Regions from separate parts of the Homo sapiens genome. Here regions 1, 2, 4, 5 and 6 are each reported to be linked to region 3. Evidence: microRNA targets listed by miRTarBase, many of them from high-throughput screens and not tested one by one. Region 3 holds a microRNA gene; each other region holds the end of a gene's coding sequence.

Region 1 (4,108 bases), not on the chromosome of region 3:
GGGATGAAAACACAGCCTTCAAGGAACAAATAACTTGAGGGGCAGAATTCTGTCACATGGGAAACTGGCCATGTGATTCGCCAGGCAAATTGCTCTCCCTTCCCAAGGGCTGTGCTGCCTTTCTTTGGGCCTCAAAGATAAGACAGCTGCACAAACCACCTGCGGGTGTGCCCCTGCCCACAGGGGAGAGGCCACAACATGCCACAGCTGGGACCCACGGAACAGGTATAACCCTGGCTCCTCTTTCCCCAGATGCTTGCTCTGCCAGGGCACGAACACTCCATGTGGATCAGGGTCTCCTGCTCCCCGTTCCAGCAGATGCAGACCACCAAGCAGAGTACAATGGGGCAGCCCCTCCACTGTCCACAGAAAGTACTGAGCTCCAGCTCCCCCGGGCCAGGGCTGGCAGGAGCCCTGCTTGGGGAACAACCTGCACAGCTCCATCTGTCACACTAGGGGGTCACAGCCTCCACCAGCTCATAACTCTCCTGCCCCAGCAGCCCTGACATGAGCTCCCCTTCCTTGGAGCCTTGTCTTCTGTGAATGGATGGAAGAGGGCAGGAATCTTAAGAGACAAAGAATATTTTGAGTAACCCAATGAAGTCAAAGAGGAAAGAAGCACTCTCGTCTATTCACCTCCCACACATGGGCACTGGAATTTACGTTTGGACACAGATTTCAAATGTCACAAGGCCTGGCTTGGGACTTTCTCTCCAAGATGCAAAGCAGGCGCCCTTCAGAACACCTTTGGCCTCTACTCAGAACTCCTGGGAAGTGGCACAAACACATACATTTGGTCTCTGTTCCCAGCTCTGGCTGCTTGCCCCGGACAGCCTGAGTTTTTTCTCCAGCATGGGGCTATCATAGCTATGCACCTCCTGATGTTCGGGCCCAATGTTGGGACAGGCTCAGGGTCCAGAGCTTCCCAGATCCACGCTGCCCATGGTGCCCCAGCATCAGGAAGCCATCTCAGCAGCTGACCAAAGTGTCTTTTATTTGTGACATACAAATACAACCAATGCAAGAAGAGATCACTTTTTCCCTTTGATTCCAGTGATAACAAGCTGCTAAAGAAAAAAAAAAATATATATATATATATATATATCAAGGAGTTTATCTTCCAAATTTCCTCTTAAAAAAAAATTAAAAAGAACCATTCACATGTCCTATACATACTTGACACCAACAAAAATAACCTGAAATAGGGTGGATATAACTAAAATTTTAAAAATCTTAAAAAAATCTTAACATGCTCCAAACAAACAAACAAAACACAAAAAGCCTGGTAAAAAAGGCCTGCTATGTTTCTCTTTTTTTTTTTTTTGAGATGGAGTCTCACTCTGTCGCCTAGGCTGGAGTGCAATGGCGTGATCTCAGCTCACCACAACCTCCACCTCCTGGGTTCAAGCGAGTCTCCTGCCTCAGCCTCCCGAGTAGCTGGGATTACAGGCCACAACCACGCCTGGCTGATTTTTGTATTTTTTAGTAGAGATGGGCTTTTGCCATGTTGACCAGGCTGGTCTTGAACTCCTGACCTCAGGTGACCCGCCTGCCTCAGCCTCCCAAAGTGCTGGGATTACAGGTGTAAGCCACCGCACTCAGCCATGCCTGCTGTTTCTCAAAACCAAGACCTGGGGGAAGTGGAGAAAGATGGATGTTTTGGAAATGAATGGGCTCAAGACCAACAAGAGTGATTGCAGGTCTCAGATAGTGCCTCTCCCACCCTAGTCCCGACCTCCTGAGGAACCCTTCAGGACATGGCCTGCAGAGACTAGGGTGAGCAGGGTATGGCACCAAGCACCCATTGACCAGTTGGTGCCACGTATCCAGTGACTGGAAAGAGACAACGTAGACTGAACTCACCTTACAAGGGATGAACACGGGGGGGTCCCTTTTGGTCCCCTTGAGTGAGAGGTATCAGGAATCCATGATCTAAGACAATAAATATTTAGCATCTGTGTCCTTTCAGAGACAGGGACCAGAGACAAATCTCTTCCTAAACATGCTCCTGTGGTTTCATGATTCTTAGGAGTCCACCAAACCCCTCCAGCAATGTCAACTCTGCCTGGGATGAAACCCACCAGGAGCCAGCAGGGTGAGGCAGAGGCAGAGGCAGACTTATTCCAGTGTAAAGCTGCAAGGCCCTCTCTAAGGAGTTCCCAGTCCCACTGCTGCCCATCAAGAGCAGCGCAAAGTGCTCAGCAGAGGGGCCAGGCTGGGTGAGGGAGGCCCTGTGTACACAGGCTCCTGCACAAGCAGGAATCCAGGTGAGAAGCAAGGACCACTCTGGGGAGATCTGCCAGGAGAGACTGCCAGAGTTGGGCAGAGGGTGGGATGTGAGCAGATGCTGAGGTCAGAGGGACCAACAGACCTCCACGAGAACAACTTCACGAAGGCTAGAACCTTTATGATACTCCCCACAGCAGAGCTCAGGGATATCCAAAGGGAGCTGTTAGGTGCTTTTTCCTTGATAAGGATTTGGCTTTTCTTCCCTGGAAGAGGAACAAGGCCTAGAGATCAGGATGAGCATTAGTTCTGAGCCTGCCTTTCTATCCTATGAGAGAAGAGGAAGGCTTTCTCCTTCCCCTGCTCCAGCCTGTTGCCACAGGGTGACACCAGAGAGAAAAGCAACTGTTGGCCACTGAGAGGCATTTCTGCTGCAGCCTGAGCTATGGCCCGGCTGGGCCACGGCAGTGGCACTAGTGCCTCACTGAGGCAGCGAGGGGCAAGCCTGAGGAGTGCAGGCAGAGGGGCCTGCTGCTGGCTGGGGGCTCTCTGAAGAGGGAGGGTGGCTGTGGGGAGGTGTGCCCTACCCTTAGAGAGCTATCAGCACCAAGATAGGAAAATCAATGGAGTTAACTACATGAGGAACGAGAAGTCCTTCTGGGGAAGATGAGGGGCTCCCTGATGTTATTCTCCCCTTGAGACTAAGAACAGAGGTATTTGGGGTAGAGGTGAGAGGCAGAGGAGAAAGAACGACGAGGGCTGGCAGACAAGAACAAGCAGAACCTCTGGCTTTCTTCTATGAATCAAAAGCTCAAGTCACTGCCATGAGACCAGGAGGTTAAGCTTAGAATGCAGCAACATCCAGGAGCCTAGAGAAGCAATCATCCCCATGGCGGGTCCCAAGAACACCTCATTGTTGGTCCTTTCAGGCTCTCTGACAGCGATGGAGAGGCAGTCTTCCTCCCAGAGTCAGCTGGTCCCAACATGAGCCCACTCCATGAATCCATAAAAACAGCTGGAAAGAGCTTTCTTCATTTCCCTGCATCTTGGCACAAAAGATCTTCCCAGTCTCCGTTAACAGCAATTCCAACTGCGCAAGCGTGAGTCTCTCTGAAGCCGCCCTCTACACCCAGATCTTACACCCAGTGTGTTCCTCTTTGGGGACCAGCAAACCCCAGACCCAGGACTCCAGAACTTTCATAAAGGTGGACATAAACATTCCATTTGTCCAAGTGTGTATGTGTCAGGGGAGGGGAGGTTGCCAGGAATCTAGGGGCTGCAGAGGTGCGAGAACCTCCACTGCAGGCCCCAGGAGCCAAATGAGGAGGCAGCCACTGTGGAGGATGAGCTTCACTGCCCGGCCCCACCTACTCTTCCCTCTCCCTTTCATTCCCTTCTAGCACTCTGGTCTCCTAGGAGAGGAGGAGCAGCTGATACCACTTCTCCCCAGGGTTCTGTGCTCTCAGGGCGCAGCCTGGCACGTGCAGGGCTGGGGAGGCCACAGCTCTGAGGACACCCGGTGAACAGTGAGACCAGGAAAGAGGAAAGGCCTTAGGAGAGAGCATTGTGACTTGAAAGTGGCTCTGAGAGTTCAGTGGCAGCAGCCACCACAGTGCCCACCCGCGTGGGAGTGATGGCTGTCCCCAAACTTGGTCCTCCGGCTCAGGATCTCATAGGAGCAATCCTCCCCACAGCAACCGGACATGCTGGGGGAAGAGTCATCAATTTCAAATCTGCAAGGCAGGCAGGAGAAAAGGGTTGGTGGCAGGCAGCTGAGTGCCTTCCTCCCTGGCCCGAGAACTCTTCTACCAGCCACACTGATGAGACCCTTAGGATGAGGGTGCAGGAGGTGGACAGTGGACCAAATCAGAGAGCACTGCCA
Region 2 (4,108 bases), not on the chromosome of region 3:
GCTGCTGCACTATGGCTAAGACCCAGCAGCTGGGCTGCAGGGACCACGTTGACTGGGTTTGCCACATTGTCATTTCTTTGGTTTGTACATAGACATAAGGTTTTCATGTCTTTATAGATGAGCCAGACTTCCTTTATGTTAAAATACCTTAACCAATACTGTGCACGTAGCTTTCTTGATTAAAATTGGAGTTTACCACGTATGTTTATTGCGGCACTACTCACAATAGCAAAGACTTGGAACGCCCAACAATGATAGACTGGATTAAGAAAATGTGGCACATATACACCATGGAATACTATGCAGCCATAAAAAATGATGAGTTCATGTCATTTGTAGGGACATGGATGAAGCTGGAAACCATCATTCTCAGCAAACTATTGCAAGGACAAAAAAACAAACACCGCATGTTCTCACTCATAGGTGGGAGCTGAACAATGAGAACACTTGGACACAGGAAGGGGAACATCACACACCAGGGCCTGTTGTGGGGTGGGGGGAGCGGGGAGGGATAGCATTAGGCGATATACCTAATGTAAATGATGAGTTAATGGGTGCAGCACACCAACATGGCACATGTATACGTATGCAACAAACCTGCACGTTGCGCACATGTACCCTAGAACTTAGAGTATAATAAAAATATATATATATATAAAAACAATGGGTTATAGCAATAAAAATAAAATAAAATAAAATTGGTGTTTACACAGGGATTGCACACAATATTATTCTGGAGTTTTTGGGAGCATAGGAGCAGGGGTGATAGCCAATGTTCTTAACAACCAGTAAGGCAACATCACCAACCAATTTCAACAGAGATATATAGAGCCAACATAGTTTGGACATAAACTAGACTTTCTTTTGTTCTCAAATGTACTGCAACGACCTGAATCATTCACCCTTCCCTTTACGAGCCCAACATCAACCCAGATCCATGACCACCATAGAACTTCCCAGCTAAAATCTGGAAAGAAAAAAGAGCAGATATGTTTAAAATGTCATCCAAAGAAGCCATGGGCCCACCAACAAGTCACAATATATTTAGCTCCTGCAACAAAAGACCAAAAAGAAAAACAGAGGGGAGGCGAGGGAATAAACAGTAATGCTGTGGTACCTTACAGTTCGATTCTACTCCCTTAACTGAAACTTTATATCAGGAAGAGTAAAGGAAGTTGCTGAAAATATTATGGGTTAGTATAAATGTTTCTCAGCTGCTAGATTTTTTAATAAAGGTTTCCATCAAATTGAATGGATACCATCAGCAAACCCTAACTCTGTAATAGGTCTGTTGTCTGTAACAGCCCTCTGTCACTATGACTAGCTGTTTTGGCAGAAGCTCTGGCAGATTTGGCCAAGATGCCTTGCTAGAGACACAGGGAGGGCAGACCTGGGTTCAGGGGCATGCTGGCTCCCAGCCTTTAGCCTCAGTTTTGTGTCTCGGCATACAACCCTAAATGCATGAATGCATATTGTATCATTTCATCACAAACACTTCAGATTTGTTGTACCATCCCTTCTACTGAGAAAATTTGTTTGAAAGTTAGACTTTTAAAAATGTTTTATTGCATTCAAATAAGAAGAAAAAGGCACAGATCCTGGTGTGAAGCAGGCCTGTATGACATCAACAACTCCGCTTTGGTTAGAAAAATCTACTAGATCAAGAGAAAGATGGGTTTTCAAGATCCAGTCGTGGTGCATTGTGTTATGTTTTTTACTCTGAGAGGAAAAAAAAAGCATTTATAGCCTACTATGTAAACAAAAATAACTGCTTTTGCTTATTCTATGACTTGCATTTTTGTAAAGTATAATACAGTGAGCAGAGATAATAATGACCAAAGTGCTGACTTCAAATGAGATTTTGTTTGCAATTTTTAATTAAGCAATCTGGGCAAACTTTTTTTTTTTTTTTTCTCTTCAACATTAGGAGGAAAGAAAAAGACCACACTTGGGGGCCTGGTGGGAAAACAGAAAATGCTTTTTCTCATTTCAACCAGATTTCAAAGCAGCAGAGTGCAGAGAGACAGTAGCCAGGCCCTCCCTCAGTATTCCTCAGGATTGCTTGAGTGTAAGTCTCGCAGATACGAATCAATTATGTTTGGAGGTACGCCTTGCAAGAGGAGTCTGCAGAAGGAGAGCCCACCTAGAGAGGACCAAAAGGAAAACAGACAAATCAAAACCATCTACCTGAAAAATCGCTGAAACAATACTTCTTGACTAGCTGCCTGGAAATGTGACTAATCATGTTCCCATTAGTTACAAAGATTCATTCAGTCTCTACTTGGAAAATCTTCTCCTGGATTTAGTACATTTAGAATTTAAAGCACTTGGCATCTAGAAGGAAAAGCAAGTTCCCAGTAGAACCACAGCAGTTTTTCCCCTACTATTGTTCAATCTTCATTTAAATTCCCAAGTGGTTGGAAAGTATTTATTGCTCTTTGAGAGGTTTTGTGATTCCTCATAGATGATTTAAATGTTCTGACTGAACAGCAGAATAAATGCATACCACATTATGGATCAGTGGGAAGATCTGCTTCCAGTTTGTTAATGTTCTTTTTAATTAGGCACAGAGAGTTTCGATTCAAGCACATTAGAAAAGATAAAAACTACTCCCTTTAACTTTGGTCATTTATGCATGTCAAAAGCACAAAAATTGGAAATATTTTGTTAAAATTATAATAATAAGACCGGTCCAATACTTTCTGAAGGTGCGAGAAACACCTACCAATATTTCATACCTACCTTCTGAGTTTCTGAATTATATTAAAAAAATAAAAGTACCCTTCAAGAGAGAATCCATGAAACCACAAAAATTCATGGTCCTTTAGTGAAGTGCTTTACTACTTGCTAATAAATTCACGTCCAGACAAAGCAGCATGCCATTTGAACATTCTTAAAAACTTCTTTAATGCAAATTTGAGAAAGTCATTCTCCTTTTTTTAAAAAAACAACTCAAGTCACATATTGGTAGAAATGATGCCACTTATGTACATGTCCATTCCTTGATGCAAATAATTCAGAATGCTTGGGTATCACCCATTTTTGTCTACATTAAATGCTTTCATTCATGCTCTACTGCATTCAACAACTTGCTTCATGTCAGTAGGAGACTGCTGTGATGGATAAGTACTAGCTGTTAATTTCAAGATAGTGAAATACAAATTAAAACTACAAAGTTAGGGATTTAAAATAAGTCTATTTTCATTGGATTATGTAATGAAAATCATGCCATACTCCACAGGCTTGGTATGGCTTATGACAGTCATAAGCTTCATATGCCAAAACCATATGAAAGCTTACCTTAGATGATATTATACATTCAAAAATCCTTATTGTGCAATGACTAAGGAAAAGAGAAAGAGGGAGAGAGAGAGAAGTCGTAAGCATTAATAAAGTGCTAACACCAAACTTGAGTACTTGTTGGATGAAATTATGGTCATGATTATGAAGAGGTGATTTCATTAATCCTTAGTCATGTAAAAGATGTAGGAAAATAGAAGCACATGAAATGAAGGGTGGGGATCCAGTCACGTCAAAAGGATCATTAATATGTAAAACATTTATTAATATGCACAACTACTTTGCCTGAATAGGTGGCAAAGTCATTCTGATTGTATAGTGAATATCTATGGTAAGAGCTTCCAAACCATTAGCTTAAAACAAATACAAAAACCAAAACCCTACAACATATATATATCGTGTTTTTCAACAAAAGAAAAACATAGACAATAGACAAAGTGTTAGTGTACATATATATATGTTGAAATTCTAAAAGGCAAAATTATCAAGTACAAATATTAGACTAGTGTATTCTATAATATTGTATTCTGCATGGAATATATATGACTGATCTAAATAGACACAAAACCTTATGTTACAAAGCTATTCTATATACAATCTACAAAGCTTTCAAAAAAGAACCTTACTTTTTTCCTCTTTTGAAAGCTGTTATTATCTCTGGAAACTCACAAAACAAATATTGTAAACTCAGGCATAGATCTACATTATCAGGGTTTTTATCAGGTTGCATACCCAGCTGCAAAAAACTCTTAATTTGCAATTCCAAATGGGGGTGAATCACATATATATGATAGTACTCATTTATTGC
Region 3 (4,108 bases):
GTAAATAGATTCATGGCTTCCCTGAGGGGAGGAGGCATGAGTGGGTTCTCACTCTATTAGAGAGAGCTGATTGTTAAAAAGAGCCTGGGACCTCCCCAACCCCTGCTTCTTCTCTTGCCATGTGATTTCTGCACAAGATGGCTCTCGCTTCACTTTCCACTATGAGTGGAAGCAATCTGAGGGCCTCACCAGAAGCAGATGCTGGCACCGTATTTTTTGTGCAGCCTGAAGACCCATGAGCCAAATAAACCTCTTTACTTTGTAAATTCCCCAGCCTCAGGCATTCCTTTATAGCAACACAAAATGTACTTAGACAATTACAAGCTTGTTCTGGCATCAGATTTTCATCAGTGATGACCTTGACAAATTCATCAATGAATTTCTCTACTGCTTTGTGATGAGCAGATGCTTTACCACAAAAAAACTTCAAAAATTTAATACCATATCTTTTTAAAAATTTCTGCAACCAGCCTATTGAATATTCACAGCTCCCTCCAATTTTCAGTTCACTGTGATAGATGTTTGCTTGTTTCATGATCAGCATACCATTAAGTGGCATGTGTTCACTGCAATGCTGACAGATCCACTCTTTCAATACATAATCGAGATCTTCATTTTTAGCTTTATGCTTTTCCATTTTTCATAACTTCTATTCATCACTTTAAGCATAGAACTTCAACAGCTTATCCTTCTGTTTCTTCAGGTCTTATATGGTGGCCATTCCAACACAATACTCTTCTATAAGACATTTCACACTTACACTGCTGTCCAGTTTCTCCAATAGCTTGACTTTCTTTCTTTCTTTTTTGTTGAAACAGAGTATCTCTCTGTCTCTCAGACTGGAGTGTGCAATGGCGCGATCTCTGCTCACTGCAACCCTCACCTCCCAGGTTCAAGCAATCCTCCCCTCTCAGCCTCCCAAGTAGCTAGGATTACAGGTGTGCATCACCATACCTGGATACTTTTTTTTTTTTTTGGATTTTTAGTAGAAACATCATTTCACCATGTTGGCTGGGCTGATCTTGAACTCCTAACTTCAAGTGATCTGCCCACCTTGGTCTCCCAAAGTGCTAGGATTATAGGTGTGAGCCACTGTGCCTGGCCTGCAACCTCCTTCTCCCAGGCTCAAGCCATCCTCCCACCTCAGCTTCCCACCATCATGCCTTACAAATTTTTGTAATTTTTTTTTTTTTTTTGATGGAGTCTTGCTCTGTCACCCAGGCTGGAGTGCATTGGTGTGATCTTGGCTCACTGCAACCTCCACCTCCCAGGTTCAAGTGATTCTCCTACCTCAGCCTCCAGAGTTTCTAGACTACATCACACACAGAGTTAACTTGAAATGGACTAACTAGTGGAAAAATTAGTCCATTTTGAGTTAACTCTGTGTGTGATGTAAGATAATGGTCCAATTTCATTATTTTGCATGAGAATATTCAGTTTTCCTCATGCCATTTATTGAAGAGATGATCCTTTCCCTATTATGTATTCTTAGTGCCTTTATTAAAGATTAGTTGACTATATATGCATGTAGTTTTTCCTGGGCTCTCTATTGGTCTATGTGTCTGTTTTTATGCCATTGCCATACTGTTGATTCCTATAGTTTTGTAATATTATTTGAAATCAAGAAATGTGTGCCTCTACCTTTGTTCTCTTTGGCCATTCGGGGTCTTTCATGGTTCCACATAAATATTCAGATAGTTTTTTTCTATTTCTGTGAAAAATGTCATTGGAATTTCATTGAGATTGCATTGAATCTGTAGAGCACTTTGGGTAGTATGGCTATCTTAACAATATGAATTCTTCCAGTCCGTGAACACAGAATTTCTATCTTTCCATTTTATTTGTGTCTTCTTTCATTTCTGTCATCAATGTCATAATTTTCCGTGTACAAATCTTTCACTTCCTTGGTTTAAGTATTTTATTTTTTCTCATGCTATTGTAAATGGGATTGTTTTCTTCTTTTTCAGATAGTTTGTTATTAGTGTATAGAAATGCAACTGATTTTTGTATGATGATTTTGTATCCTGGCACTTTACTGAATTTTAAAATTATTTCCAACAGTTGTTTTGGAGGAGTCTTTAGGGTCTGCCACATATAAGATCATGTCATCTGCAAACAGAGACAATTTCACTTCTTCCTTTCCTATTTGGATGGCTGTTACTTCTTTTTCTTGCTTAATTGCTCTGGCTAGAACTTCCAGTACTATGTTAAATAGAAGTAGCGAGAGTAGGCATCCTTGTCTTGTTCTTGATCTTAGAAAGGAAGCTATCAGTTTTCCACCAGTGAATATGATGTTACCTGTGTGTTTGTAATATATGGCCTTTATTATGTTGAGGTACCTTCCTTCTATACCTAATTTGTAGAGAATTTTTATCATAAAAGGATGTTAAATGCTTTCTCTGCATCAATTGAGATGATCATATGATTTTTACCTTTATCCTGTTAATGTGGTTTATTACATTTATTGATTTGTGTATGTTGAACCATCCGTACATACCAAGGATAAATTCCACTTGATCATAGTGTATGCTCCTTTTAATGTGCTGTTGAATTCAGCCAGTTAATATATATTTTTTTAATTTAACATTTTTTTTTGAGACAGAGTCTCACTCTGTCACCCGGGCTGGAGGGCCATTGTGCAATCTCAGCTCACTGCAACCTCTGCCTCCCGGGTTTAAGTGATTCTTGTGCCTCAACCTCCCAAGTAGCTGGGACTTCAGGCATACATCACCTTGCCCAGCCAATTTTTGTTTTGTTTTGCTTTTTGAGACAGAGTCTTGCTCTGCCACCCAGGCTGGAATGTAGTGATGCAATCTCGGCTCACTGCAGTCTCCGCCTCCTGGGCTCAAGCTATTCTCATGCTTCAGCCTCCCAAGTAGCTGGGATTACAGATGTGCACCACCACACCCAGCTAACTTTTCTAATTTTAGTAGAGACATGGTTTCACCATATTGGCCAGGCTAGTCTCAAACTCCTGACTTCAGGTGATCCACCCACCTCGGCCTCCCAAAGTGCTGGGATTACAGGTGGGAGTCACCGCACCTGGCCCAATTTTTGTATTTTCAGTAAAGACCGGGTTTCACTATGTTGGCCAGGCTGGTCTAAACTCTTGGCCTCAAGTGATCTGCCCACCTTGGCATCCCCAAGTGAGCCACTGTGCCTGGCCTCAGCCTGCAAAAATTTTATTGAGAATTTTTCCATCTGTGTTCAGTATAAGCCTGTAAGTTTCTTTTCTTTTAGTGTTCTTATCTAACTTTGATGCAAGGGTAATACTGGCCTTGTAAAAAGAGTTTGGAAATGTTCCTCCCTCTTGATTTTTTTTTTTAGAAAAGTTTTAGAAGAATTGGTGTTTATTCTTCTCTGTTTGGTGGAATCCACCTAATCTTTTGTATTTTTGTGGTATCAGTTGTAACTATTCTTTTGTCATTTCTGATTGTAATTTTTTGAGTCATCTTTCTTTTTTTCTTGGTTAGTTTACTAAAGGTTTGTCAATTTTGTTTATCTTTTTAAAAAATCAACTCTTAGTTTCTTTGATCTTTTAAATTGTCTTTCTGTTCTCTATTTCATTTACTTCTGCTCTAATTTTTGTTATTTTTCTCCCTTCTGCTAACTTTGGGCTTAGTTTGTCTTTTTTTTTTTTTGAGACAGAGTCTCACTCTGTTGCACAGGCTAGAGTAAAGTCGCACAGTCTCAGCTCACTGCAGCCTCTGCCTCCTGGCTTCAAGGAATTCTCCTGCCTCAGCCTCCTGAGGGTGCCTGCCACCAGGCCTGGCTAATTTTTGTATTTTTAGTAGGGATGGGGTTTCACCATGTTGGCCATGAACTCCTGACCTCAAGTGATCTGCCCACCTCGACCTCCCAAACTGCTGGGGTTACAGGCATGAGCCACTGCACCTGGCTGTGAGATCTTTCTTTTTAAAATTTAGGTATTTATCTCTATAAATTCCTCTGTTAGAACTGCTTTTGTTGCATCCCATGTTTGGTATGTTATGTTTCTATTTCTGTTGGTTTGAAGACAGTTTTTTAAATCTTCTTTGACCCACTGGTTGTTCAAGAGCATGTTGTTTAATTTCTATTAATACTATTTGTGAATTTTCCAATTTTCCTT
Region 4 (4,089 bases), not on the chromosome of region 3:
CACTTGTCCTGCCTGGCCCTAGCCCTGAACAACTGCAATGCAGCACCTCTGGAAGTGGCACATTTTATTTCTTTTCTAAACGCTGAGTTGTCAGGGATAAATTTTCAATAGAAAAATCTTTCCCACCTGCTGATAATACTTTGGTTTTTTTGTTTTCCTAAAGATAAAGCCTGGAGTCAGCAAAATTTGCTTGCATGATAAGCTAGTTGCTTTGGAACAAACAGAAGGTTGCTGGGTATTTCTTGGAGTAGAATTTTGTAGCCTGCCAGACTGAGTTTCTCACTGGCATCAAACACACACTTCATCATAAGGGCGGCAAAGCCCAAGAATTGAAACCCACTTGACTGGAAATACCAGGACCCGAAGGTGGAGAGCCACCCTGGAGGACCACGTGGTCTGCAATGAGCTCTCCAGTCACCCCCGACAACTCTCAGGAGTTAACTTCATGGGACGGCAGGGGAGTGGGAGACAGGGATGTTAATACTTTTCAGAAATTAAGACATTAAATAAGCAGAAAATAAATATACAATATTTCTACAAGTTACAGCATTATGAAACAGTAGGACACATCACACAGAAAAAGAATCTACAATATTTACAATCCTTGATTTTGAAAAAGTTGAGAAAAACAGTGATTTTTTTACTTATTTATGCTGTACAAAATTTTACAAGGTAAAGGAAACACAATTGCACACAGACATTTGGCTCAGTTGATAAGTAATATGACCTACGAATCTAATAAATACTCACAATATATACATTAAGAAGGGGAAACGGCAGACAATTGTATTCCACTATATTTTTTTAATCAGAAGGAATTTTAAACTTGATTTCTCCGCAACCCCCACCCCCAAAATTCTTGATCAACTAACCAGTTGGGAAGGGCATCTGAAGAATCACTCATGAAACTATTTTGTGTGTGTTTATTGCGTTTCTGTGTTAAGTCACAGGACACTTTTTACAAACCTCACATAGGGAGAGGTTGTCAAGGCACAAAACCTGCAGTAAGTTTCCAAAAAGGGGATTTAATTATTTTTTCTACAAAAATGTTTTTTAAAAAAGGTAAAAACGTATACCCACGGGAGGCATACTTTCTGCACAGAGGCATCTTGATAACCAGATACATACAGTACAGAGACATCCAGTCATCGCTTTAAGTTCTGGTGCCAACAGCCTGGTCTTTAATACTCCTACAATTCATAGAATCTCTAATTTCCTCAGGAACTGTTTCCACAGCCAGCCTGGAGGCCGCCAGGCCAGAGGGAAATGTGCTCATGTGGTGCACACAGCCCCTGGGCAGCACAGGGCAGGGCCTCCCGTGCCTGGCCCAGGGCTGCACCCAGTGTGTGCTCCCAGGGGCTGCAGGGCTGAGGAAACAGAGTAAAGTGCTCTAGTCAGGAGACTGGCACGTGAGTACAGGGATCCTGGGAGGGGGTGCCCAGATCCAAATACATCTTTGGTGTATGTGTGTGTCCAGCAGGCCCACGGCTGCAATCCTACCACTGCTTGTAACCGTGGGCTTTGTATGACCCTACCAATGGGCTCGAGACACATCAGGGAACAAGATGAGCTCCAACACAGCTTTAAAAATAAGTCAAAGTCCCAAGGAGATTCTTGGGGAAAGGAAATTTTTTAAAGTAAGAGTATTTGGATTGAAATCATCTCTACCTAAAGGAAAAAGTGAATATGCAATATATACATATATATTTTTTAAATTATGAAGATAAAAATGTTTAGATTTTTCCACCTAATTTAAATAACGTGAACATGCTGGCTCTTCTATCGGGCAAAACACTAGTTGGTGGCACTGCTTACTCATTTGAAAATTTAGTTATTTCTTTTAAAAGTTGTTTAACGATGGAGTTTTCAAAAATTTTAAGAGTTACAGAGTTCACAGAATTGTCTTCCCTCCTCACTTTCACTGCTCCCTAACCTGACTCTTTCTTGGGTCTCCCTGGGCATCTGCTGCCTCTGAAATGACTGACCAGTGTGTGGCTTCCTTCCACTGCACTCATAAGGAGCAGGCACAGAGAAAGAGCACCCTCACTACATGGCTGGGGTCACAAGTGGCCTGACAATATCCAACTGTCCTGGAAAAATGAAAAAAAACAGACTTCTGCCCAGAATTATTCTTCTATGGTGCTGGTGGAAGTGGGATGAGGCCTGTTTCAAAGTGAATTTAAAGGAGTGAAGCTAGTGGACTGTGAGTTGGACTAAAATGCAGGAGGCCAAGCAAATGGCCATCAGAAGCCCTGCCCCAGGCCTGTGCCAATTCCCATGAGGGCGTGAGCTGGATGCTGCAGCTGGACTCTGCTGTAATGGACACGGTGGCCCTCTGGGACCTGATGCTGACAGTGCATCCTGTGACCATGGGAAAGCCTGCAACCAGAAAAGCCAGCAGCACAAAGGGGCGTAGCACTTAAGTCTGTTGTTATTACTGCTATTGCCTCTTCAGAATACTTCCCAATAACATGCTCGTCGAAATGGAATGAAAACCAACACCAAATGCTTCCCAGTTAATAACAGATCGCTCGAACTGTGCAAGATACAGGCAGATATTAACTCTTGTTCTGACTCAATTTCACTTTATCATGAAAATACACTGGACCAAATCTATGCATCTGAGTCCAGACTGGAGTTGCATCACAAAAAGTGATGAGGAAAGACGCAAAAATAGTCTGAAATTTTGCCACAGATGCAACTGAATTTATAAAGGTACGTAAATATTTACAAATGGGACTGGTATATCAATGCAGGCTGGCAACAGACCCTCTGCCCTTTTAATCAGTTCCATTTCAAAAGAACTCTTTTGGTATTAAAAATAATTTAAAAAGGTCAGAGAGGCAATAGTAGGGAAGGGAGGGAGTATATCACACGTCTCCCTGTTTAAAAATTCTGTAATCTCTAAAAATAAACTAAGGCAGCTTTTTAAGTTAGCTGGCTCAGTTTCCACTGCAGGGGTTACATAATCCTCTGAGAATAGGCCGTAGGTTCTTAAAATTTTAATACAAAAGTTATTCACAAATTGGTTAAAAAGTTTCCATTTCCTTTTTGAAAAACCTTATTGAAGGTGAGGGGGAAAACACACTGCATGTAAACACCATTCTTACACAAAATCCTGCTCCAAAAAACCATGGTTTGTATATTAAAAAGCAAAGAATGCTCCCTCCTTTACATTCACAACAAACTTCCATTAGAAATTCTGCTGTGTGGTGATGAACAGAAAGGTAGTCCCATCCAGCTCGGTGTCTTCTGAAACGTCACCTGCCCCCTCCACAAGAGAACCGCTGGCTGCATAATAATGGCACCAGGAGACCGCGGTGCTGGGTCTTGTTGGTTTGAACAAGCAAAATGTCTGCATGGTATCTCGGCTCCGCAAAGAACCTGTCAATGCATTCTCCACACCAGGCGGACAATGTAACGTAACAGTCGTAAGATAACCATTCGTGGGTGGTCTTCGGCTGCTTGGTAATTATTCAAAAATACCTGAAACAACAAAAGGAAAGCTTCTTAGTTTCTCCCTAATTTGGGGGTGGGGAGGGGTGGGAGCCCATATTTAAGTGAACAACCAATCCCATCTTAATCACCATGAAAGGCACCTCTTCAAGAGCACTGTGTCACAAAGCACGATGCCTCCCAGAGATTGTGAAGAAAACTTGTTTTCATTTCCCTGCAAAGGGGAAGACATCCCTACAAAAAGGGCAGGCATACCAATGATTTACTCCTTAAAATAGGAAAAAAAAAAAAAAAAAAAAAAGCACTCAAAAAAATGTTTGAAAAACTCAAAGAGGATGTAAAGCAACTATCTTACCACCCAAGTTAACTGACATTCAAATATGCTGCAGATTCCCCCAGGGGTGAATTTCTGGTAGCTGTAATTTATTTGAAAAACCAGTGATTTGGAGTAATCTGCCCTAAGAAGCTAAATAAAGTCTCGCAGTGATGCGCCATTGTGCCTCTGGCTGCTTGGCTATGATAAACACCGTGACCCAGAGGGGTGCCCATGGTCACAGACACAGGCAATGTCAACCCCCATCCTCCCACCTTCTCGGTATGGGAAGGAAAGAGCAATCCAGAACATAAAAAAGT
Region 5 (4,108 bases), not on the chromosome of region 3:
TATATGAAAGCATTTTTAAAACCAAGGGCTAGTTTTTTTGTTTTGAATAAATAGGGGGCCATTGGGAGGGGGATTTCACGTTAATTTATACCATCAGTACAAAACTTGTAAAATTCATTGCTTTGTGGAATTCACTTTATCTTTCTACATTCTCAGAGGCAGTTTTGGGGAGCCAGAATTACAGAATTAATCTAGCTAAAAATGCTCTTTAACAGCTTGGTTTGCAGTCTGTTTGTGCTCTTGTCCTTTGTGTTGATTTGGTAATTCTGTACAGATTAAGATGTGTTAATGGATTATTTATCTTATTTGTTGTGAAAATAACGACTCTCTCTTTTTAAATTTTATGGTAGAATGAACATTTATTCTTGATTATAATTTATTGAATAATAGATACTTATCATTTACAATTAAGCAGAAGTTAAAATGTGGTAACTGTTGAAAATTGAAAATTAGACAGCTATCCCATTTTAAATTGATGGGTGCAAAGTGTGTTTCTTTCTCTTAGGTTACCATTCCATCAAATACAATATCTGTGAATGGAAGGTCAAGACTCAGCCATTCCATGTCCCCTGATGCCCAGGACGGCCATTAAATGTTACCCTGCCACACCACTGCACTTCACTTCCACTTCAGACCAACTTCATACTAATGGAACATTTTGGCAAATGTATATTCAGATGTACACTAATATATTATCTATTAAAATATTAGAATTTGTGTTGTGGCTTTTAATGCCAGAAGAAAAGTTACCAGAATTTATAATTTATAGTAATTTTTTGATCTTTTTTTTGCCTTAAGAGTTGAATATGCTGCTTTAGAACTTTAAAACAAGGTGTAAATGATTTTCATTTTTTACAAATGAAAAATAATTCCTTTGTATTGATTTCACTTACCAGCACATTCTCTACAATGGTGACTTAGACAAAAGTATAAGATTCATAGACTTTATATTTGTATGACATACAACTAGGACAAACATAGATATGACATTTGCTGCCTCAGTGTAGCAATTGGAAATATTTATAAGTTATATGAAAGCCTGTTTTGGGCTGAAAGAATGATTTAGAAAACTAGTGATACCAAATAAGTATATTCAGTTCAATAATTATTTTCAATGATGAATCACTTAGTGTGAAAGACTTGCCTTGTGTATTCTTTATGTAATTACAAATCACTGTCAATTTTATGGGAAGCTCATAGTATTTTAATATTTTATTAACATGGAACTCTTGTTTTTTTAATCTTTAGAACTTAAATTCTACAAGAATTTTAAATATTTTCTGTATATAATTATGACATTGTCACACAGAAATTACACATTTTATGTGCCAGAAGCCTTAAACATCTTTCTGTGAAAATGCTGATATATTGTGACAGTTATTTCACATTTGATATGTAGAGAGGAATAGGGGTTAGTTTATGTTTATATTGAAAAACTTTAAAGACTATTTGGAAGTTCCAGAAATTCTGGTTTTAATTCAAGTAAAATGATAAAATAGTCATTATATAGTTCAGATGCTAATATTCTAAGTAATAATATATATTTACATTGAAGCTAAAACTGTTAAGCAAAACAATGCCCATTTGTCGGCTTACAGCTCTTCCGGAGTCTAGAGCCTGTTGGTGTTCTGTCCCTACTTTAAGAATTTAATTGCTCACTTATTCTGAAAGCTTTGTTCAAACAAGATGATATTAAATTTGTTTTCACTAAAACTACTGGGATATCTGCCTCTTGGGGATTTTTTTTTCAATTTAATAAAAGCAAGTTGTATATTTGGGGTGCTTTTTAAAATATATAGTTTGTGTCAACCAGCATATTTATTTCCCTTACCTGATGCATACATTTCTATTAGCCAGTGAACAAACAAGAAATTTGTAAGATTTACCATTTATCAGGGATCCCTAGTGTACATTTAAGCCCTGGCATTCTGACTCCAAAATGCATGGTCTAAGCATTTAAAATGTTTAGCATAGTTCCTGATACATGGCATGGCCATCTTAAATGCTAAATGTTGCTGCTGTTTTCCTTGAATCAGTTGGAGAGACCCTCATATATAGATACTTAAGTTATGTTGTTATAAGCAAGTAGAGAAAGGAGTGAATTTTTTTTAAAAAATTGTGTTGTCATAATTATCTACTTATAAAAATATAAATTTGGATCCCTAATTTAAACCTTCATATATTTTGAGTTGGATTGAAGACTTAAAGACAAGCGACATGTAAGATGTTTTCAATATATTAATATATAAGAAAGGCTTAATTTATGAAGATATGAAAGTTCCTACAACTCATGATAAGTCTACCTAATAGAAATATCAGCACATTATTCTTACAAGAGGAAATTCAAAAGGCCAACAAACATGGAAAAAAAATACTCTTCACTGATAATCAGGGAAATACAAGTTAAAAACATGGAAAGGTACCACATCAAATTAGCAAAAACGGAAGTTTCAAAATAGCAAGTGTTGTCAGGAACATCAAACAGTGGGAACTCTACTGTTGGTGGGAAAATACACTGGCATAACTACCAGTTCTGCAATATCTAGTAAAATTAAAGATTCCTTACCATGTTACCTTAAATAAGTACTTATGCACATGCATAAGGAGACATCTGCAAAAATGTTCACGGCAGCCTTGTGTAAAACAGCAGAAAGGGGTCCTAACCCGTGCTCAGCTTTAGTAATGCATATATTCATATGATAGACTTCCACACAGCAGTCCAAATGAACAAGCTAGAGCTATATATGTCAGCATGAATACATCTCAAAAACAAGTGACAAGAGTGAGTGGTGGAACAAGTCGTGTTTTATGAAATTAGTTACATAAAGTATAAATATAAAAAATGATACTATAAATTATGGCTGTATATGTAGGAAAAAAATTTGCTGGTGGTTACCTGTGGGAACCAAGAAAGACTGAATTGAGATTTATAAGAGGCATCAATTGTGTTCGTAGTATTTTATAAACTGCTGTTTGAAAACAAGTGCTTATTATATTCTAAATTCTAGTATACTTGTAGTTTATAATTATAATAAAATAATGTTTTAAAGGTCACATAGGATTTAGGGGGCTATGTATATAAACCATTAATACATGTATGTTCTGAAAAGTTGCCTTATCGACACCATTTTAGGAGAACATGTGCTATCCTGTCAATGGGGAAAGAAATTTGTGACAAGTAGTTTTCACTCATCATATCCTAAAATAACAGCACAAGGAAGATACAGGAATGGTCTAGAACCAACTTTTGACTTTCATGTATAATTTTTAGCATCTAGGCATTTTGCTTTTCCTTCTTTCCTCCAATCAAGTTATTTATTTATATAATATTAAAATTATAATTCAGATTACATATATATGATAGAGTATAAAATACATTCTTTTTCATCCCCAGCATCCCACTCTCCTCTCCAAAGATAGCTGTTAATATTTTGATATGAAGCCCTATATAGATGTATTTATATGAAGTACATGTGTGCAGGTTTGTTGGGGGCTTTTGTGTGTGTGTGTGTGTGTGTGTGTGTGTGTGTGTATGTGTGTTTCTTAACATGAAAGGAGGTCACACTCTAATACTATGTAACAACTTGCCTTTTATACCAGCAGTGTTCTGGAAGAGCTTTTCTTTTTACACATACAGATCGATCGTATTTCTGTTAGCCATTCTATTGTTTCTTGCTGCGGTACATAATGTTGGCTGGAGTGAAGAGATTGGGGTTCAGATCACAAGTCTGCCACTTATGAGTCATGGGATCTTGGGCAAATTACTTTCTCTATGCTTCATTTTCTCTTCTGAAAAATGAATTAATATGAATAAAAATGAACCTTATTTTAAAAACGGCAGGCAATTCATCTTTTAAAGTTACCTGATGTCAATACTATAAGTGAACAGGTATTATTTGCCTAATATACTCCCTATTCTTTGAGGAGTGACCCTTCTTCCGATTTCACCTCTTCATGAACTGCCAGATCTGGCCTTGGCCACTAGGCACTGGCAACAGCATACACACTCTGTCATCTTATCCAAGTCCTTGAAATGAGACCAATCTTTGTCCTGAGACTTAGTTACTTATAGGTGCTTAAAACCCAAAGCGTCCCAATTGATACAATT
Region 6 (4,000 bases), not on the chromosome of region 3:
GATGCCAGTAAAGCCATGCCTGGGCACATGCCAAGAGGAGGTTGGTGTCTGTTTACAGGACCTGCTTGGGTTGGCAGTTCCCATGGGGAAGGGAAGAGGCGTGGTGGGAGCTTGGCCCAGCTTGGCAAACAAAGCCAGTGGGAACACAAGCCTGTCCTCCTCCATGGCCAGGGGTGGAAAAAAGAGTGTGTAAAGCCAAGCCCAATGCCCCTCTTTCCATCTGTCCCCCAGATGTCCTACGCTTCGACAACACCTATAGCTTTGTCCACGCCAAGAAGGTCAGCTTCACAGTGGAGGTCCTGCTCCCTGACGAGGGCATGCAGAAATATGATAAGGAGCTCACCCCTGTCTAGGTGGCTCCCTCATTTCTCAGAGACCTCCTAACCCTTTGATTTCTCTGTTTATATCCTACACTCCCTCCCTCCCTGAAATTGATTGTTAGTCCTCCTGACTCTGTGACGTTAGTGAGTACAGAAAGAGATGCCCTGGGGAAAACTCATCTACTGTGGTCAGATCAAGAAAGGTATGAGAGGCACAACCTTGGAGGGTACCAAGGTTGCAGAAGAGGAAAAAGCAAGGGTAAAGGCAAGAAGTGGGTGTCATGAAACTCAATAAATAGCAAAATGAATCCCCTAGCCTTTGTCCTCACCTACCCTAAGGCAGGTGTGTATGCTTGAATTCCTTCCGTATGGCTGTGAGCAACTTGGGTTGGAGACATATCTAAATCCTTTTTACTTCCACTCCCTATATATAGTAGATGCTCAGTGTATATTTGTGGCATTGAATGGAGGACCAGAAGGTAGGGTGCAGGTGACTCAACAGCTGTACATGATTAGGAGGAGCCTATGTGGGGTGGATTTCAGCACCTTGGACAGGAGCAGATGTGTGGTGGGGTTGGACTCTCTTCTGGAGACCCAGACAATTCAGTCTCCAGATTTCTGGCAGTGGCTGTCTTTTGAGGGCCCCAGCCACAAAGGCCACATGCCTCTGATAGGAGCTGCCTACATCAGGCTTTGTCTGACTTGCACGCTCAGCTTCCCACCCTAACCCACTTCCCTTGTTGCACATAGCTTATGTTTTAGGGACTTTCCTGGAAGCAAAGGCAGTCACATCTGGCATAATCATAATAAAGAAAACAACTATCATTTGGCGAGTGCTCTCTGTGTACCAGAAACTGTGCCAAGAGCTTTGTGAGTTTAGCATGTTTTATTCTCATGCCATCCCCAAGGCCCTTTATGGATAAGGAAATGGAGGCTCAGAGGGGTGAAGCTACTCACTCAACATCTTACAGCTTGGGTGGCAGATCCAGGACCTGGGGCAGGGGGTGTTCGTTTGTTTGTTTATTTGTTTGTTTGTTTGTTTTTTGAGACAGGGTCTCGCTCTGTCGCCCACCCAGGCTGGAGTGCAGTGGTACAATCATGGCTCACTGCAGTCTTGACCTCTTGGGCTCAAGCCATTCTCCCACCTCAGCCTCCTGAGTAGCTGGGACTACAGGTGGGCATCACCACACTTGGCTAATTTTTTTGTATTTTTTTGTAGAGATGGGGTTTCCCCATGTTGTCTCAAGCTCCTGGCCTCAAGTGATTTACCCCCCATCAGCCTCCCAAAGTGCTGGGATAACAGGCCTCAGCCACCATGCCTGGCCTGTTTTTGCTTTGTTTACTCCAATGACATTGCTCTCAGTTGCCTTGTAATACCGCCTCCTGCCTATAATCCCAGCCCTTGGGGAGGCTGAGATGGGCGGATCGCTTGAGCCCAGGAGTTTTAGACCAGCCTGGGCAACATAGTAAGACCACATCTCTATCAAAAAAATTTAATATAGTAAGAATATGACCTCCTAAGATTCCACTTTTACAAAGGCAGTGAGAAGGCATGATTTATTTGTTCTAGACCTTCCAGTAGAAGTGTCCTGCATGTCACCCTCTCCAGTCCCTGTTTGTGGGTAGAGGAGGTGATAGGCCATAGAGACCCACAATACTGAAGCAGCTTGTCCAAGGAAATTCACAGCAGAGTGGGGCAGGGCTTGTGTTCCTCAGCTCAGCATCCTGTCCGCTGCTCACATGGCATCTGTGAAGCACAACCCCCTGACGCTCACCATGACCCTGGGTGACTAGGGCAAAGGCCAGGACTCCAGAGTTTCCTTCCCAACTTTCTGCTGTGATTCGGGGACGTGAAGAGGCTGGCTTGAGCCCCAGTCCCTGACACAACTCTTGCCAGGGGAGCCGGATCACACCCGGGAATGGGGATGAATGGGAACCAAAGGCTGGTGCCATGAGAGGCTCCTTGGAAACAAACAAACGGAGGGCTGAGCTCATCCGTGGGCAGGCTATGAGGTCTGACTCAGGCTAGTCAAGCAAATATTCAGCAGCAGCAAGCACTTTCCCACATGCACTTATGGGTGCAAAATCTGATATCTGCTTTATAGATGGGAAACTGAGCTCCCAAAGGCACTGGCCTTGTATCTTCAGCCTACAGGTGACAGAAATAGTCCTGGAGCTAAGGCTGCCCCTTACCCCGTCACCTCTTCACCCCCACCACTCTTCTATAACAATTTGTCAGAATGGGACAAGACTGCCTTCTTCCTGAGCTGGCAGGGAAGGAGGAGGGAGGAGGAAGGAGAAAGGAAAAAGGAAGGAAGAGAAGAGAAAATGAGGGTTGTCAGATTTAGAAAGGAAAAAAAAAAAAAAGCATGGCCAGGTGCAGTGGCTCATGCCTATAATCCCAACACTTTAGGAGGCCAAGGCAGGCGGATCACTTGACGTCAGGAGTTCGAGACCAGCTTGGCCAATGTGGTGAAACCCCGTCTCTACTAAAAATACAAAATTTAGCCTGGGGAGGTAGCACATACCTGTAATCTCAGCTCCTCAGAAGGCTGAGGCATGAGAATCTCTTGAATCCAGGAGGTGGAGATTGCAGTGGGCTGAGATCACACCACTGCACTCCAGCCTGAGCAACAGAGCAAGACTCCATCTAAAAAAAAAAAAAAAAAAAAAAAAGACATACTTAAAATGTATCCATTGTTTATCTAAAATTAAAATTGACCTATGCATCTTATATTTTATCTGACAATCCTACCAATGAGGGAAGATGGAGGGAAGAGAGAGGAAAGGGAGGAGGATGGAAAGAGGGGGATGGGTTCACCTTCTTGGAAGACGGTGGCAGCACCCACAATTTGGGCCAATGATGTCATGGAATCCTTGGGAGAGGATGGCTTAGTGTGGGTGATGCAGGGTCGGGGGACAGGGTGGTCTCACCCTTGACCACCAAAGGAAAGGCCTCGATGTTGAAGCAGGGTCTGAGGTAGAGAGTGTGGACCCTTTGTGCCTTTGGGACTAAGATGAGCAGTGCTGTTGCCAGAGCTCCTCTGTGGCAGCTGAGTGGAGGGGACTTGCACCAGGAGGTGGAGCAGTGCAAAGAACCTAAGGCCAGGGCCAGAGCTGAGATCTGCAAAGTGCCCATCAGCATCCGCTGATGCCCACCCCTGGCAAGCCAGCTCCCACTGTGTGCACACAGCCAGTAAGAGGCAGGCTTCCCAAGCTCCAGCTTCTAGCCTCCAGTCTTACTCAGGGTCTAGATGCTCAGCTCCAGTCCTGAATCTCCAGGAGGCAGCATTGGGGAAGGAAAGAGACCCACTTTGTAGCTTTGGCCAATGGTCACTAATAGAGTTTGGATATTTGTCCCCTCCAAATCTCAGGAGGAAATGTGGCCCCCGATGTTGGAGGTGGGGCCTAGTGGGAGGTGTTTGGGTCATGGCGGTAGATCCTTCATGAATGGCTTGGTGCCTGCCCGCCATAATGAGTGAGTTCTTATTCTACAATTGCTTAAAAGAGGCTGGCACCCCTCCCCTCTTCTTGCTCCCTTCCTCTCACCATGTGACACGCTGGCTCCCCTTCCTCTTCTGCTATGAGTAAACGCTTCCTGAAGCCCTCACCAGAAGCTGAGCAGATGCCGGCACCATGCTTTCTGTACATCCTGCAGAACAATGAGCCAAGTAAACCTC

The links. Region 3 holds the annotated microRNA hsa-miR-4424 (AGAGUUAACUCAAAAUGGACUA, at 1,362-1,383, opposite strand). A microRNA usually pairs through its seed, bases 2 to 8, with sites in the 3' UTR of a target mRNA and lowers its output. Matches are read on the target gene's strand: a 7mer-m8 pairs with bases 2 to 8, a 7mer-A1 pairs with bases 2 to 7 and ends in A, and an 8mer does both.
Region 1: the mRNA of NAA40 is a reported target of hsa-miR-4424. Seed matches in the 3' UTR shown: 7mer-m8 at 2,853-2,859.
Region 2: miRTarBase lists MYBPC1 as a target of hsa-miR-4424. The part of its 3' UTR that is shown has no 7-base or 8-base seed match.
Region 4: miRTarBase lists BCL2L11 as a target of hsa-miR-4424. Seed matches in the 3' UTR shown: 7mer-m8 at 435-441.
Region 5: the mRNA of COBLL1 is a reported target of hsa-miR-4424. The part of its 3' UTR that is shown has no 7-base or 8-base seed match.
Region 6: miRTarBase lists SEC14L3 as a target of hsa-miR-4424. The part of its 3' UTR that is shown has no 7-base or 8-base seed match.

The regions. Positions count from the first base shown.
Region 1 is chr11:63,954,189-63,958,296 of GRCh38, reverse strand. NAA40 (N-alpha-acetyltransferase 40, NatD catalytic subunit) reads right to left here. Exons shown (of 8, transcript NM_024771.4): 8 at 978-3,959. The coding sequence ends at 3,818. Among named protein-coding and RNA genes, the nearest start is that of NAA40, 17 kb to the right of the region's middle.
Region 2 is chr12:101,683,617-101,687,724 of GRCh38, reverse strand. MYBPC1 (myosin binding protein C1) reads right to left here. Exons shown (of 32, transcript NM_002465.4): 31 at 3,301-3,343; 32 at 1,697-2,143. The coding sequence ends at 3,320. Among named protein-coding and RNA genes, the nearest start is that of CHPT1, 12 kb to the left of the region's middle.
Region 3 is chr1:178,675,038-178,679,145 of GRCh38, reverse strand. It overlaps MIR4424 (microRNA 4424), which reads right to left and starts at 1,397; the gene lies at 1,312-1,397.
Region 4 is chr2:111,163,530-111,167,618 of GRCh38, reverse strand. It overlaps BCL2L11 (BCL2 like 11), which reads right to left. Exons shown (of 4, transcript NM_138621.5): 4 at 1-3,486. The coding sequence ends at 3,388. Among named protein-coding and RNA genes, the nearest start is that of BCL2L11, 45 kb to the right of the region's middle. RefSeq lists enhancers at 1-7, 1,322-1,822.
Region 5 is chr2:164,682,430-164,686,537 of GRCh38, reverse strand. It overlaps COBLL1 (cordon-bleu WH2 repeat protein like 1), which reads left to right. Exons shown (of 14, transcript NM_001365672.2): 14 at 506-4,108. The coding sequence ends at 592. Among named protein-coding and RNA genes, the nearest start is that of SNORA70F, 3.3 kb to the left of the region's middle.
Region 6 is chr22:30,456,374-30,460,373 of GRCh38, reverse strand. SEC14L3 (SEC14 like lipid binding 3) reads left to right here. Exons shown (of 12, transcript NM_174975.5): 12 at 232-1,145. The coding sequence ends at 353. Among named protein-coding and RNA genes, the nearest start is that of SEC14L3, 14 kb to the left of the region's middle.